Homo sapiens: one gene and its partner. Each later gene encodes a partner of the first gene's protein in a complex. Links are inferred from orthologs where the notes say so. Each region holds a gene or a part of one and is shown in the gene's direction. Other genes may lie near its edges. The genes, in order: DUSP6 and MAPK1.

The links.
Region 2: the proteins of DUSP6 (region 1) and MAPK1 are in contact, whole or in part, in a crystal structure (PDB 2FYS), measured with the Rattus norvegicus proteins. The link is inferred for Homo sapiens from one-to-one orthologs. Residues at the interface, in NP_446335.1 of Rattus norvegicus: Arg64, Arg65, Leu66, Gln67, Lys68, Gly69, Asn70, Leu71, Pro72, Val73, Arg74; in NP_446294.1 of Rattus norvegicus: Glu79, Glu107, Thr108, Leu113, Gln117, Leu119, Asp122, His123, Tyr126, Phe127, Gln130, Thr157, Thr158, Cys159, Asp160, Tyr314, Asp316, Asp319.

The regions. Positions count from the first base shown.
Region 1 is NC_000012.12:89,348,723-89,357,012, reverse strand, and holds the start of DUSP6 (dual specificity protein phosphatase 6), read left to right. Parts: upstream 1-4,511; 5' UTR 4,512-4,973; coding exon 4,974-5,373; intron 5,374-5,987; coding exon 5,988-6,425; intron 6,426-7,451; coding exon 7,452-7,759; 3' UTR 7,760-8,290. Other genes in the region: POC1B-DUSP6 readthrough, read left to right, coding at 7,452-7,523. UniProt on the Homo sapiens protein: Dual specificity protein phosphatase, which mediates dephosphorylation and inactivation of MAP kinases. Has a specificity for the ERK family. Plays an important role in alleviating chronic postoperative pain.
Region 2 is NC_000022.11:21,800,891-21,809,202, reverse strand, and holds part of MAPK1 (mitogen-activated protein kinase 1), read left to right. Parts: intron 1-1,356; coding exon 1,357-1,539; intron 1,540-3,163; coding exon 3,164-3,353; intron 3,354-8,312. UniProt on the Homo sapiens protein: Serine/threonine kinase which acts as an essential component of the MAP kinase signal transduction pathway. MAPK1/ERK2 and MAPK3/ERK1 are the 2 MAPKs which play an important role in the MAPK/ERK cascade.

The DNA.
Region 1 (8,290 bases):
TTTGCTGAAAATCTGTTTAACTGTTTTCACATGATGTGTTAATAAATGTCATTGTATTCACAGAGATTATTCCAAGAAGATTAAAGGTCATGCTAGCCCATTTGCATCTTATAAATCTCAAGTGCCCTCAAACTCAGGAAAATTCCTGCAAAAGTGGAATGTTTCTCAAATGGCCTAGAGAAAATTTTATAACCAAAATACACTGCTTTAAAAATTTTTTTTTTTTAACTAACAATTTTTAAGGAACTTTCCAGGGGGAAACACCAGGAGGAATTCAAGCACAAGCACAGGTGCTCGGTGCACACATACATACACACACACACACACACACACACACAGAGGAAGAAACAAGAATCTATGAAAGTGCTTCTCTGCACTCATGAGAATGGATCACAGATGATCTGCTATCTCCAATTTTTAAATACAGACCTCTTCATATGAATGATATCCTCTGAAGGGCACTGAGGCCTCTGGAATTAAGGAAGCCTGTAATTCTTCCAACTACTACAGCCCTTATCTCCTAAGAGAGCTTTTCCTCAGTGCCTCACAGGAATGGCAATATCACCACCAACAGCATTCCTTATGCAGGAATGAAGTGGTGATATTTTAAAAATCATCTTCTGAATACCGACTTTGTGCCCTACACTTCTCGTGTGTCATCTCAGTTGTGTCTAATCCTCACAGTCCTTTGAGGGAGGAATATATATTCCCAATGTTACACACTTCCGAATTCCTTTTCTTGCTTTTTCTCTATAGCGCTTTCACTTTCTAATATATAATTATTTGTTTTGTTAATTGGACTGTCCTCATTAGAATGTAAACTTCAGTGAGGCAGGTTATTGTTGTCTGTTTATTCTCTACTGCTTTCCTGGAATCTAGAATAAATGCATCAATGAATGAATGAAGTGAGGCCCAGACTACTACTGAGTGACAGAGGTTTGAACCTAGGCTTATGTGCTGTGCTGACGCACTAGATAACCAATGACACTTGTGAAGATTAGGATCTAGGGCATATTCTAAGAGAGATAAAATATGCAACATTTAGTGAATGTTTGACTGATGAAGGGTTGCGTGCAAAGAAAACCACTGGTGTGTAAAAGGAGCAGGGAAAGCAGCCTCGCTTTTGATCTTTGACATGGAGGATGCAACAGAAAACGTGAGGCTGGAGAAAGCCTGGAGGTCAAAATTCAAAATGCTGACCTTGAAATTCTTCACATGTGGGCAGGGAATACCACGTGGAGGTGAATATAGTGTCCATAACACTCTATGTAATCCGTGCATGTGGGCATCCTTAAGAGTCTGTAAAGGGTTTGGCCTCACGTCTTGACACTCTGTTGCTACTGTGTGCCCTTGGGCAAATTCTTTAATCTTTGTAAATGGGATAATTTACATGTTTTTTCTGAAGACTGTCCGAAATTATGCAAGTAAACACAGAAACAAGACGGTACCCATCATGCAGTTAAGTGCCCAATATGCATTGTTGTATCAGTTTGCTGTGGCTGGAGAACAGCGTGTTCCAAAGGTGACCAGTAGGGAGAAATCAGAAATGTAGCTGGGTCCATTCTGATAACTGTGCTAAAGGATTTTTGATCCTGGTCTACGATAACACCCCCTTTACTTGACAGCTGAATTGGAACGGATTAAATCGGTTAGGGTAGTATCTCAGAGGGCTTTGCTGCAGATGAGCGAGTCCAGGCGGGCTGTCAAGCGAGCCTCAAGGGGCATCTGTGGGATGCCCAAACCGTGTCCCCAAGCCGAGGCCTTTTTACAGGTCCTCAATTCAGAATGAAAAATTAATTCCAACGGCTAATAGCACCCCACCACCACTTTAGGACGTTTCACCGTACCCATTTTGTCGTCACAGGGACCCTATGAAGCAGATAGTTTTATCTTCGTTATGCCGACGTGGAAGACTGCAACTTAGAACGGCTAAATGATTTAACTAAGGGCGCTTACCTAGGAAGAAGCGGGGGACATAATGCAAACGAGGGCCGTCCCACTCCAGAAGCCCTTTTCGCAGCATTTCTAGTACTGAGCAGTCAGAACGCCACTTTAATCAATGCGCCAGGAAACACTGGCATTCCCTTGGCGATAAAGTTCAGAAGCATGGGTAAAACTACAGTTTCGATGTATCCTCCCGAATCTATAGTCATACTCAAGTAGCTGCGTATTAAAACAGGCAAAGTAGAAACCCAACTTCCCTCCCTTTCTCTTCTGTTGGAGGTCCTGTGCTGAACCTCCAACAGGTTTGCTCTTCTCAGTTCCGCTGAAGGGCATCCTGCCTCTTCCCTCCCTGTCCCCAGGTCCCAATGACTGAAACGTCTCGGGGTGGGAACTTCTGTGACAGATCGTGGAGGACAGGGGGAGTCAACTCCAGCGCAGGCCTCCCCCGGCTGAAACTAGAAGATACCCAGTGAAATATACGAGTTTTGTTCCAAGGACTGCCCAAAAATGGTGCGGAGAGGAGCTCGGCAATCCCCACCTTTGTCGAACACGCTCCTCCAGGGGCGGCCTGCCTGAAGCAGAGCTCCAAAATTGGCAACCTAGGCCTCGCAGCCGCCTTTTTTTAGCCTACATTTCCCAAACCAGGGAAGAGGCGGGTGACTAAAAATGCAAATTGCAGCGGGGGTGTTAGCAGGCATGCCCGTGGGTGCGGGGCGTCGGGCGAAGGGAGACCCCGCGACCTTAGGCGCCCTCGCGGTGTTCACGGTAGGCGCAAAGCGCAGCAAGGGACACTCCCCAAAGCCGCACCCCGCCGGACGGCTGCCCCCGCTTCCGCCTCTCAGGCAGCGGTGGGACAAAGCGCGGCCTCTTTTCCGCCGGGGTTTAGGGAGGGAAGGCCGGATTAGGGCCCGCGCCTTCCGGCTGCATCCCTCTCGCGCCGCGCCGGCCGCACACAGGTGGTTTTCCGCTCGGGAGGGGCAGGCTTCGGCACTTTTATATAACAATAGAGCTCTGCGCGCCGGGAACGCGCCTCCCCGCCGCCGCGGCCCCCACCCGGCCACGCCTCCATCCGGCTTCCAATCCGTCCGCCCCGCGGCGCCTGGGCCGAGTGCTGCTCGCTGGCCTGGCCCGCACCTCCCCAAAGTTACCTGCTGGCTTTGCAGCGCGGTAGAGACGTTCCCCTCGACTCCTTGGGAGCGAGGAGCCAGGGGGGTCCCGGCAGGCACTCGTCCTTGCTCCCCCCACCCTCCCCAGATCTCTATGGACCCGGGAGTCCCTCGCTGAGCCCCGCACCCGTCCACTGCGTCGCGCACAGCCCCGTGCCCAAGCGGGGAGACGGGGACGGCGGGGCGGTGGCAGGGAGCGCAGCGCGCAGGCGCGGCTGGTGCTCCCCGGAGTGCCCGGCGCTGGACAAAGGGAGGAGGCGGCGGCAGGAGAGGGCTGGGGAGGCCCCCTCTGACATGCCTCCCTGCCAACTGTAACCAATCGTCGAGCCCCCCTGCCGAGCCCCCGCAGCCTGCAGGTCTTGCGGGAGGACTTCCTCACGCCTCGCCCATGGCGGGGACTGCTGGCCCGGCCCGGCGCGTCCCAGCACACCTCGCTCAGGCAGCCCCGCCAGACCGGCTCCCCCGTCAGAAGCCGAGCTCCTTGCCCAGAAATCATTAACCAGCGCGACCTCCCAGCAGGCGATGGTGGTGGTGGGGCGGGGGGAGAGATATAGATTCCCCCGAACAATGGCTTGTAACTCCCCACGCCGCCGGAGCGGAATACAGTAAAAGCACTGGACTGACCTAAGAGTTTGTTTCTGCACTCTACATTGTTTTAATGAAAATAAAATGTTATTTTAAGAAAAAAGGTTTTCTTCTGATTTTCTGCACAACCAGACGTTTGTTTGTTTGCTTTAAAATGTTTCAACAAAATCCTGGTTTGTTTCGAAATATGTTGGATTAGCATTTAACACCTCATCGGTCACTAAAGCCCAGTCAGTTCACCAGCCCCAACACAGCCTCGGCTAAAAGAACATCAGAGCAAACAGAGCTGGGCCTTTAAAAGTGGCAAACAAATGCCACACACCGCCTAAAGAAGGGGGGTTGGGGGAGGGGAGGGTTAAGGCGAACTTGGGTCCAAATGAGTTTGAAGGGAATACAAAGAACGAAAAGTCAGCACAAGTTTTCCTAAAGCTAGCTCGCGAACGCAAGCGTCGCGAACAAGGGCTTTTGTGCATGCTAATTGCGCCATTGGTGCGCAAAAGTTCCGACGCGAAGTGTGAACTCTCAACAGAAGGAAACATGAGACAACTGAAGTGCCCTGGTTTATGTGCCCTGCTCCTCCTCCGCTGCCGCCTCCCCTTCTTTCTCCTTCCTCCCGCCGAGCCCGCTGTTGCAGCTTGTTTGCACTGGGGCTTATCCGGAGCGGAAATTCCTTTCCGTTTTTGTGAATGACAAACTCATTAACAATTCATCAACACAACCTGTTCCAGCCGGCCCGTCCCCACGGCAACAGCCCCTTCCGCAGCACGCTCATTGGCTGGCCCGGAGAATGTATCCATTGAGACGCTCGCTGTTTGTATCCATTGAGGAGCTGCCTCGCGCAGGGGGTGTGCGAGGCTGAGTCCAAGAGATAGCAAATCGAGTCTTAAATAATCCGGGGAGAAAGACGCCCGGGTAGATTTGAGGTGCAGCCTTGGAGGGAGGGATTAGAAGCCGCTAGACTTTTTTTCCTCCCCTCTCAGTAGCACGGAGTCCGAATTAATTGGATTTCATTCACTGGGGAGGAACAAAAACTATCTGGGCAGCTTCATTGAGAGAGATTCATTGACACTAAGAGCCAGCGGCTGCAGCTGGGTGCAGAGAGAACCTCCGGCTTTACTTCTGTCTCGTCTGCCCCAACCGCTAGCCTCGGCTTGGGTAAGGCGAGGCGGAATTAAACCCCGCTCCGAGAGCGGCAGCTTCGCGCGCGGTGCGCTCGGCCTATGCCTGCCCCGAGGGGCGTCTGGTAGGCACCCCGCCCTCTCCCGCAGCTCGACCCCCATGATAGATACGCTCAGACCCGTGCCCTTCGCGTCGGAAATGGCGATCAGCAAGACGGTGGCGTGGCTCAACGAGCAGCTGGAGCTGGGCAACGAGCGGCTGCTGCTGATGGACTGCCGGCCGCAGGAGCTATACGAGTCGTCGCACATCGAGTCGGCCATCAACGTGGCCATCCCGGGCATCATGCTGCGGCGCCTGCAGAAGGGTAACCTGCCGGTGCGCGCGCTCTTCACGCGCGGCGAGGACCGGGACCGCTTCACCCGGCGCTGTGGCACCGACACAGTGGTGCTCTACGACGAGAGCAGCAGCGACTGGAACGAGAATACGGGCGGCGAGTCGGTGCTCGGGCTGCTGCTCAAGAAGCTCAAGGACGAGGGCTGCCGGGCGTTCTACCTGGAAGGTACGCGCCCAGGGAACTCCGCGCGCGGGGCAGGGCTAGGGGCGCAGGGCTGCGGGCGGGGCGCGTGGATTGAAAATACCTCTGCTCCGCTCAGCTGGAGCTTCGGAGCCGCGCTGCCCGCCTAGGGACCGGCAGCCGGCGAGGTAGGGGCCGCGAACCGCGCGTTCCGCACCAGAGAACCGGGCCGGCTCAGAATCCACTCGCTTCCGGCTGCGGGTACCGGCGGTTTCTTTCTAACGGGTTCTGCGCCTTCTTAGCCAGAACATCCTCCACCATCACCCTGTTTTCTATCGTTCGATTTTGAATTAAGATTTGCAGGACGGGAGAGATTGTTGGGGATGCAAATTGGCACATCTTAGCTCTCAAAATATTCCAAAAAGTTGCCATTTTGTCTATTTCCGGATTCAAGCGAATAAGGGTTCCCTGGCGAGGCGGGCCCGTTCGTTCCATTCCCGATGGTGCACATTTAAAGTGTGTTTCTCTTATAGATGGTTCTGTATGTAGGGGGTTCGTAGGATGCTTGTGGTGTTTCTTGCGCCGGGCTGCGGTTCTTACAAGCTGTGAAAACTACTACGGCTTCTCAGGTTAGATGATTGCTTTTCTCGTTCTGGCAGGTGGCTTCAGTAAGTTCCAAGCCGAGTTCTCCCTGCATTGCGAGACCAATCTAGACGGCTCGTGTAGCAGCAGCTCGCCGCCGTTGCCAGTGCTGGGGCTCGGGGGCCTGCGGATCAGCTCTGACTCTTCCTCGGACATCGAGTCTGACCTTGACCGAGACCCCAATAGTGCAACAGACTCGGATGGTAGTCCGCTGTCCAACAGCCAGCCTTCCTTCCCAGTGGAGATCTTGCCCTTCCTCTACTTGGGCTGTGCCAAAGACTCCACCAACTTGGACGTGTTGGAGGAATTCGGCATCAAGTACATCTTGAACGTCACCCCCAATTTGCCGAATCTCTTTGAGAACGCAGGAGAGTTTAAATACAAGCAAATCCCCATCTCGGATCACTGGAGCCAAAACCTGTCCCAGTTTTTCCCTGAGGCCATTTCTTTCATAGGTGAGACTAATTAATAGTCGTCGCTCTGACATTTAAATGCAAAATTCCTAGCCATTCATAGAGTTTAAGCTGTTAATCGTTCTTGCTGCTTGCTAATTTGTCTGACTGCAGGTCTCTAATGTTCCTAGAGCGTCCTTAATTCTGGTTTATCTTCTTGCTAAAGGAAGAAAACCTGCCTTTTGACATGGCTGCAGATCACAGGTGTATTTGAAACGCTGTTTCTTGAATCTTTGAATTCAGTCATTGACAGTCGTTCATAATCGGACAACAGATTTTTCCCCCCAGTCTTTGGACTCAGGGGAAGGGTCAGATAGAAGTACTCACTATAGACAGGAATTCCAGCATTGCTTTATAATTTAAAAACATCTAGGAGTTATTTTAGGACATCAAGTTAGTTGTTGGAAAGCAGTATGAATGCTGAATGTTATCCAGTTGAATGATGCGGTGATACTGGTAACAGTGAGACAGTGGGTAACCTGAGCCCAGCAGGAAGAACTGTGGGCTGGAAGCCTGGGAGAAGTGAATCTCCAGGCATTGTAATGCATTTCCTATTACAAAGGAACTCATTTTCAGGCCGTGTCGACATCCTGTTCCTCCTAATGGGCCGTCCCCTGTGACTTCCCTCTCTCTTTTAAAATGCCTGAATACCTCCATTGTTAGCTGCACAACATTTGGAGCATAATTTAATAGACCCTTGCAGTCTGGTTGTCTGTGTAAAAGGCATTCACGAACATATTGCAGGGTTTCTGGTATTCACATGCCGAGGCAAAGAATGCACCCATTAAGGAGTTTTTTGTTGGCAGAAACTTAATACAAAAGCTCTCTTTTCAGAAAATATCTGAAATATGTAATTGTGTCCAGTGTACATGTTTCATTTCAGTGATACATTTTCTGCTGCTTGTAGGGCTCAACTGCCACACACAACTATTATTATTATTATGTTTTCAAGTTCAGTTTTTAGACTGATCATTCACAAAGGGTGGTTTTCAGTCTGCTGAGATCTTGCTTTTCTTTTTGTGTTCACAGATGAAGCCCGGGGCAAGAACTGTGGTGTCTTGGTACATTGCTTGGCTGGCATTAGCCGCTCAGTCACTGTGACTGTGGCTTACCTTATGCAGAAGCTCAATCTGTCGATGAACGATGCCTATGACATTGTCAAAATGAAAAAATCCAACATATCCCCTAACTTCAACTTCATGGGTCAGCTGCTGGACTTCGAGAGGACGCTGGGACTCAGCAGCCCATGTGACAACAGGGTTCCAGCACAGCAGCTGTATTTTACCACCCCTTCCAACCAGAATGTATACCAGGTGGACTCTCTGCAATCTACGTGAAAGACCCCACACCCCTCCTTGCTGGAATGTGTCTGGCCCTTCAGCAGTTTCTCTTGGCAGCATCAGCTGGGCTGCTTTCTTTGTGTGTGGCCCCAGGTGTCAAAATGACACCAGCTGTCTGTACTAGACAAGGTTACCAAGTGCGGAATTGGTTAATACTAACAGAGAGATTTGCTCCATTCTCTTTGGAATAACAGGACATGCTGTATAGATACAGGCAGTAGGTTTGCTCTGTACCCATGTGTACAGCCTACCCATGCAGGGACTGGGATTCGAGGACTTCCAGGCGCATAGGGTAGAACCAAATGATAGGGTAGGAGCATGTGTTCTTTAGGGCCTTGTAAGGCTGTTTCCTTTTGCATCTGGAACTGACTATATAATTGTCTTCAATGAAGACTAATTCAATTTTGCATATAGAGGAGCCAAAGAGAGATTTCAGCTCTGTATTTGTGGTATCAGTTTGGAAAAAAAAATCTGATACTCCATTTGATTATTGTAAATATTTGATCTTGAATCACTTGACAGTGTTTG
Region 2 (8,312 bases), on another chromosome or scaffold:
GGGGCCACCTGTGTACTATATGTTAATGGTGTTGTAGGATAATTGGATCCTAGTAAGACAAAGTTCTCCTCCAGAGCATTATCTTGTCATAGAATCAGACAAATGTATCAATAATTCTTAGGATTAGTAGACTGATAAATATTATAGAAGCATAAACTTTATTTAATTTAGAGACGGAGTCTCACTCTGTCGCCCAGGCTGGAGTGCAGTGGTACAATCTTGGCTCACTGCCACGTGCATCTCCCAGGTTCAAGTGATTCTTGTGCCTCAGCCTCCCAAGTAGCTGGGATTGTAGGCACTTGCCACCATGCCTGGCTAATTTTTTTGTATTTTTAGTAGAGGCGGGGTTTCACCATGTTGTCCAGGCTGGTCTCAAAACTCCTGTCCTCAAGTGATCCAGCCGCCCCAGCTTCCCAAAGTGCTGGGATTGCAGGTGTGAGCCACTGCACCCGGCCCTAGAAGCATAAATTTTAGAATAAAGTTATTTTACTGCTTTCTATTCTAGCACTTACCCCAAGGAAACAAGAAATGTTGTCTTACTGCCTGTCAATGTTATTTGATTGCTTTGGTCAGTGGGCCAGATGTTGACATTTATTAATATGAAAATTTCTTATACACAAGATTGTAATAGAATGTTTATCATAAAGATAGTAGTAATACTCAAGATTCAAATTCATAAAATTGAAGGTATAATTTTTATTATTGCTTTTGCTTATAATTCTGGTTTATCAGACATTAAGGACAACTAGGAAAGAACTGGGCCCCATGTTATTGCCACAAATATGTTTTTTGAAGAATACTTTTCTAGGTTTTGTTATAAAACTACCCAAACATCTTGATTCAGTTTCTTGGGGGAAGAAATGGTCATGTTGTTTTGCAAGTGAGAGAAACAAAGTTAATAGAAGTAATCAAGGTGTTCTCTTGGGTCCATTTTTGTTAGGGATAAAGATGTACAGTTGTAGGTTATTTGAATGTTTCTTCTGTGTCAGAGGAATTTGATACAACAGTAAGAAGGTGTTTCAGAGACAGAAGTGATTACTCTCACCAGAATGCAGTTGCTGTTTAAGACAATGGGAGAATGCTTGTTTGTGTATTTCTGGGTTTATAAAGGCAAGACTTTCACCCAGTTAACAGGGCTAGGTTCTCTGTTAGTTTTGAGAGTCACTGTGTGCTCTCTCATGTCAGTTGCATCCATCCTCCCTAGCTTGAGGCCTTTTTGTGGATAATATACATGCTGCCTTCACGGGTATGAAACAGGTGTTTACACAGTGTTAAAAATATAATACTTTACCAACTTGCCTTCTTCAAATATTCTGAGGGCTGTTTTTAATGCCATCTCTCTCTCTCTTTTTTAAGCTCTGCTTATGATAATGTCAACAAAGTTCGAGTAGCTATCAAGAAAATCAGCCCCTTTGAGCACCAGACCTACTGCCAGAGAACCCTGAGGGAGATAAAAATCTTACTGCGCTTCAGACATGAGAACATCATTGGAATCAATGACATTATTCGAGCACCAACCATCGAGCAAATGAAAGATGTGTATCCTTTTTAGGCAACTGGCCAATTCCACTGCTTGGTAACCTTGTTGAGTAAATAGAACTTGAAATTTCCTGAACTTAAAGGAAAAGTGCATTAAACATGCTAAAGGGAAAATCGTAATCTGTTTGCTATTTACTCCCTAAGTCTAGTCATGGAAAATCTTGGTTAACTCTGTTTGCAGTCATGTTTCTTCTGTCCAAGGGATGGTTTGTTGTGATGATGAAAAGGTAAAGGGAAGATCAGTAGTAGACTAAGAAAGAGGGTGCCCTGGCTATCTACCTGGTGAAATCAGGACTGTCCTGATCTTAAGAGTCAGGTTACCACTTTAGGTCTCAGTTTCCCCACCTTTAAAATGAAGGAACTGGTCGTCATGATCTTTAAGGTCAACTGAGGTCTGAAATTATGTGATTAACTCTGACCAACATTTAGAAATCTGGACTGAACAGATCTAGAGGATGCTGCCTGGGTAAAGGCTCCATTTGAAAGATAGAGAGGTTAAGTATACTGAAGAGGATCTGCCAGAAGGGAAAGGGTTATACAGCACTCCTACCAGTTTACCCAATTTGTATTCCGCCCCTCCAGGGTGCGGGAGCTCGCTGTTTCTAGGCAGCCCTTTCCATTTTTAAACAGCTCTGTTAATAAGTTGTAGTGATATTTGAAGTGAAATGCCTCCTGCCACTACCACCTGTTGGTCCTGCTTTACTTTTTGCCATGAAAATAAGCCTCTCTCAGATGACAGATTTTTAAATCATGTTTCCTTTGAATCCCATGCTGCGCCTCCTATAGCATAAATCTGTAAGAAACAGAGACTAGTGTTTACACAGAAGTGAGTAAAAGAAATGTAGAAATACTGCTAATGAAATAATACTATGATGAAGTTAAAGGCTAAATGCTTTAATAATTTAATTTCTGTGAGAAAGAAAGTAGCCATAGCTAAACTTTTAGGTAGTTAAGTACGTGACCAGGCAAGAAAGCATGAGGAGGAAAACTAGCACAAACCCCTTCTTAGAACGACTTGCCCATAGTCTTACTTATTTAAGATCTTAACAGTAATGGAAGAGTCAAGAAAATAGACTTAGGGTTGGATTTACTAGTAAGAGTATGTTTCTAGACCTGTATTTCTGGAAGTTTTATGTTTGGCTTTTGAGGAGCTTGGGAGAGGAGGGGAGCGGCAACAAGAAGTAAAAAGAATAGTGACATTACAGGTTACTGGACCAAACAGAGGAGGGAGTATCTGCTACTTACAGGCTAACAGTGTTTCCAGCAAACCTTGGAGGGGGTTCGTTGATGGTGGACAATTTAGAGAGCAAAGAGGTTGAGACTTCAAGATTGACCAGAATTTCCCTAACAGCCTGTTTCAGATCTCAGTCTAGGCCCATAGCCGCATCAGTCAGATGTAATGCTGGAATGCCTGCCATCTCACAGGACCTAAAAGGAGTTAACGACTTCAGATTCTTTCCATGAAGGAAACCAAGTTTTCCTCAGTTTCTTCTTTCCTTTAAGGGCTTCATGGTGTAATGATGGACTGTTTGGGAAGAGAGTCAAGAGAGGATGCATTTTTGTTTTCAATGCTTTGCTAAATGTGACCAGCTAATTGGTGTTTTACCTTAACCTGTGCAAACAGATATATAGTACAGGACCTCATGGAAACAGATCTTTACAAGCTCTTGAAGACACAACACCTCAGCAATGACCATATCTGCTATTTTCTCTACCAGATCCTCAGAGGGTTAAAATATATCCATTCAGCTAACGTTCTGCACCGTGACCTCAAGCCTTCCAACCTGCTGCTCAACACCACCTGTGATCTCAAGGTCAGCCAGGTTATTTACTATTAAGGTGATATATATTGAAAAACCCTTTCACTGAAGCATAGTTATATTTGTCATTATTCATATTTTAAATTACACCAGAAATACCCAAAAACATGTTTATGGCAAAAATGCTAATAAAGTGTGGTAGTCCTCTTCTTCTTCCTTATCCCATTGCTCCTTTCTCCCCAGAGATACCTTTTTTTTTTTTTTCTTAAAGACAGAGTCTTAGTATGTTGCCCAGGCCGGTCTGGAACTCCTGGGCTCAAGCAGTCCTCCTTTCTTGGCCTCCCAAAGTGCTGGGATTATGTATGTGGGCCACAGCACCAGGCCGTGATAACTAACTACTATAACAAATTGGTGGCCAGTTGCGGTGGCTCACGCCTGTAATCCTAGCACCTTGGGAGGCCAAGGTGGGCCTTATCACCTGAGGTCAGGAGTTCAAGACCAGCCTGGCCAACATGGCGAAACCCCATCTCTACTAAAAATACAAAAATCAGCCGGGCGTGGTGGCATGCGCCTGTAATCCCAGCTACATGGGAGCTGAGGTAGGAGAACCGCTTGAACCTGGGAGGCGGAGGTTGCAGTGAGCCGAGATCACACCACTGCACGCCAGCCTGGGTGACAAAGCAAAACTCTGTCCTAAAAAACAAAGTGTATTTTCTCCCAAAGTATTTTCTATGCTCTTGCATACATGTGTATTTTTATACTTTATATAGATAAACAGGATCACGTACATTATGTGTTAGTTTTTTTGTTCGTTTGTTTGTTTTTTGAGATGGAGTCTCGCTCTGTCACCCAGGCTGGAGTGCAGTGGCGCGATCTCAGCTCACTGCAAGCTCTGCTTCCCAGGTTCCCGCCATTCTCCTGCCTCAGCCTCCCGAGTAGCTGGGACTACAGGCACCTGCCACCACGCCTGGCTAATTTTTCTTTGTTTTTGTATTTTTGTAGAGATGGGGTTTCACCGTGTTAGCCAGGATGGTCTCAATCTCCTGACCTTGTGATCCGCCCACCTTGGCCTCCCAAAGTGCTGGTATTACAGGCGTGAGCCACCGCGCCTGGCCTTATGTGTTAGTTTTAAAATCATGTTTTGTTGGTGACATTTTTCTTCAATAAATTTTATTCAAAAGATAGCAGCAGAAAACTTAACGTCACTGACTTTAATACCTAATAAGGCATTCCAACTAAATAAGAAAACCCCAAATTCTTTACAGTCCTCAGAGTTCTGAAAATATGCAGCATTTACATATTTCTGTTTTAATGGGTGTTACAGGTAAACGAGGGAAATTTATGGATATCTTAGATGTGACGGAGCGATGTCGATTCAGTCTAAAAAAATGCACAGGAATTCAAGAAGACCTAAATAAATGGGAAGGCATCCCATGTCTGTGGATCATAAGACTTAATACTGTTAAGATGGCAGTATTCTCCAAATTGATTTGCAGATTTAGTGCAATCCCTATCAAAGCCCCCAGTTGTTTTTTTCTGTAGAAATTGACAGGCTGATCCCAAAATTCATATGGAAATTCATATGGAGAACTGATACACTTCCTGATTTCAAAACTTACTGCAAAACACAGTAATCAAGACAGTGTGCTACTGGCATAAGAATAGACATATAGGTCAGTGGAATAGAAGTGAGAGTCAGTAAATAAACCCGTGTATCTATGGTCAACTGATTTTTGGCAAGGATGCCAGGACCATTCACTGGGGAAAGAATAGTCTTTTCAGCAAATGAATCTGGGACAACTGAATAGCCACATACAAAAAGATGAAAAAATTAACTCAAAATGGCTGGGTGCAGTGGTTCGCGCCTGTAATCCCAGCACTTTGGGAGGCCAAGGCCTGTGGATTGCCTGAGCTCCGGAGCAAGACCAGCCTGGGCAACATGGCAAAACCCCATCTCTACCGAAAATACAAAAAAATTAATCTGGGCGTGGTGGCATGTGCCTGTGGTCCCAGCTACTCAGGAGGCTGAGTGGGAGGACTGCTTGAGCCTGGGAGGTGGAAATTGCAGTGAGCAGAGATTGCACCACTGCACTCCATCTGGGGTGACAGAGTGAGACCTTGTCTCAAAAGGAAAAAAAAATTCAAAATGGATTGAAGAACTCAATTAAAAGCTAAAACTTTAATACTCTTAGAAAACATAGAAGTAAATCTTTGCAATCTTATGTTAGGCAAAGCTTCTTAGACATGACACCAAAAGCACAAGCAACAAAAGAAAAAAGTAAGTGGATTCCATCAAGATTAGAAACTTGTGCTACAAAGCAAACCATCAAAAAAGTGAAAAGGCAAGCCACAGAATGAGAGAAGGTATTTGCAAATCATACATCTGATAAGGGACTTAAAACTAGAATATATGAAGAACTCTTATAACTCAATAATGAAAAGATAAATAGCCTAGTTTAAAAAATGGACAAAGGATCTGAATAGACATTTCTCTAAAGAAGATATACAGATGGCAATAAGCACATGGAATGATAGATGCTTGACATCATTAGTCAGTAGAAAAATGCAAATCAAAATTACATTGAAACAACTTCATGCTAACTAGGATGGCTGTAGTTAAAAAGTCAGATAATAAGTGTTGGTGAGGATTCCACTCCTTAGTGAAAATGAAAACATGCATCTATACAAAAACTTGAACACAAATCTTCATAGTGGTATTGTTCACTATAGCCAGTAAGTAGAAACAATCCAAATGTCCAGCTGATGATGAATAAATACAGTGTGGTGGATCCACACAGTAGAAGAGAAAGGAGTGAAGTACTGATAATGCTACAACATGGATGAATCTTGGAAACATGTCTGTGAAGGAAGGCAGCCACAGAAGACACATATTGTATGATTCTGTTTACGTGAAATGTCTAGAATAGGCAAATCCATAGAGACAAAAATTAGAATTAGTGGATTACTGATTGCCTAGGGCTAGAGGAGTTGGGAGAATAAAGAAGGAAGGAATACTAACTCACTGGAATTTCTTTTTGAGGTTATAAAAATATTTTCAAATTGGATGGTGGTAATGGTTAATTTCCACCATTATAATACTAAAACCATTGAGTTATACACTTTAAATGAGCAAATTGTATGGTGTGTGAATTATAGGTTAATAAAGCTGCTTAAGTACATATATATGTATAGCAATAATCATTTATTGGATTTCAGTTCAACAGACACTCCTATGAGAAGCCCTTTGAGATACGCCAGACAAGAGAGATGAGGGTCTGCCCTTGAAATCTGAAAACTGATAGATCAGAAATCTGGTAGACAGTAGGTGATTATAATGAGATGTTCTGTAACTGAGATGGAGAAAAAGATGGTGTACAAATGCAAAGGAGAGAGGTGGGCTAGCGCTGGCTGGGACTGGGAGGCAGCAGGAAGAAGGTGGTATCTGTGCCGGCCCTCGAGGTTGGGTAGCTTTTCTTGCGGGAGGCCAGTGGCTCTATTGGACATAGGGTATCATAGGCAGAGAGTACAGAAATAAAATAAGAAGGAAGGGACTACTACCGAAAGCACTGAGTCTTCCTCCCTGTGGCTGCAGCATTGGATGAGTAATAGGGAGTCATCGACACTAAGCTAAAAAGGTTGGTTGCAAGTAGATCGTGGGGAACCTTCTAGAACTGTGTGTAAAAAGCGGTGGGTTTTGTCACGGTGGGTGAACACGGTGGCCAATGTCCAGTGAGATGTAAAGGACAGCTTCCTTCATCAGATATTGTGTGGATTGGACTCTGTCCCCTCTTAGGATCCTTCTGATACAGGTTTATGTCTTTTCCACATGGGATGGAACCAGCTCCTTTACCTGGATCAGTGCAACCAAGAGTCAGGTGGGCACAAAACGAATAAAGCTATGTTTAGGATGGCTGTACTACTTCTTTGGCACTTAATGATTGTCTTGAAAATTTGCAGTGAATATTTTTATGTCTCCTCGTGTTTTTTTTTTCTTTTGGTTATCATCATAGCCCTGTTATGGCAGATTGCTTTTGTTTTTGGAGAGACATTCTCAATCAATATTTTAAGCATATAACATTTCTGGGAAGAATTGGCTCTTATTTTTGCTTGAAAGTGTTCATCTTTAAGAATAAAACAAATAGAACCAGACTACTCTCTCTGTTGTCTCTTCCCAGTTTATGGACTTGTCTTTAAGGCCATTCTGTTCACCTACTCACACTCACACACACGAGTTGTTGGCCGTGGCATAATTTAGGCATCGTCTTGAAAACCCAAGTTAACACAAAGAATCAGAAGCATAACAAATTGACTAACATTTTATTTTATTTTATTTTATTTTTATTTTATTTATTTTTATTTTTATTTTATACTTTTTCGAGATAGAGTCTTGCTCTGTTGCCCAGGAGTACAGTGGCATGATCTCAGCTCACTGCAACCTTCACCTCCTGGGTTCAAGCAATTCTCCTGCTGAAGCTTCCTGAGTAGCTGAGATTACAGGTGCCCACCACCATGCCTGGCTAATTTTTGTATTTTCAGTAGATACGGGGTTTCACCATATTGGCCAGGCTGGTCTCGAACTTCTGATCTCGTGATCCGCCCGCCTTGACCTCCCAAAGTGCTGGGATTCTACAGGCATTTGCCACCACACCCGGCCTTTACTGATATTTTAAAAGTATACAGCAGTCAGGTGCCATGGCTCACGCCTGTAATCCCAACACATTGAGTGGCTGAGGCAGGCGGATCGCCTGAGGTCAGGAGTTCAAGTCCAGTCTGACCAACTTGGTGAAACCCTGTCTCTACTGAAAATACAAACAAATTAGCTGGGTGTGGTGGCGCACACCTGTAATCCCAGCTACTTGGGAGGCTGAGGCACGAGAATCAGTGGGAGGCAGAGGTTGCAGTGAGCTGAGATGGCACCACTGCACTCCAGCCTGGGCAACAGGGTGAGACTCCATCTCAGAAAAAAAAAAGTATACAGCAATGTGTGTGCATCATTCTCATGGGTATAAATGC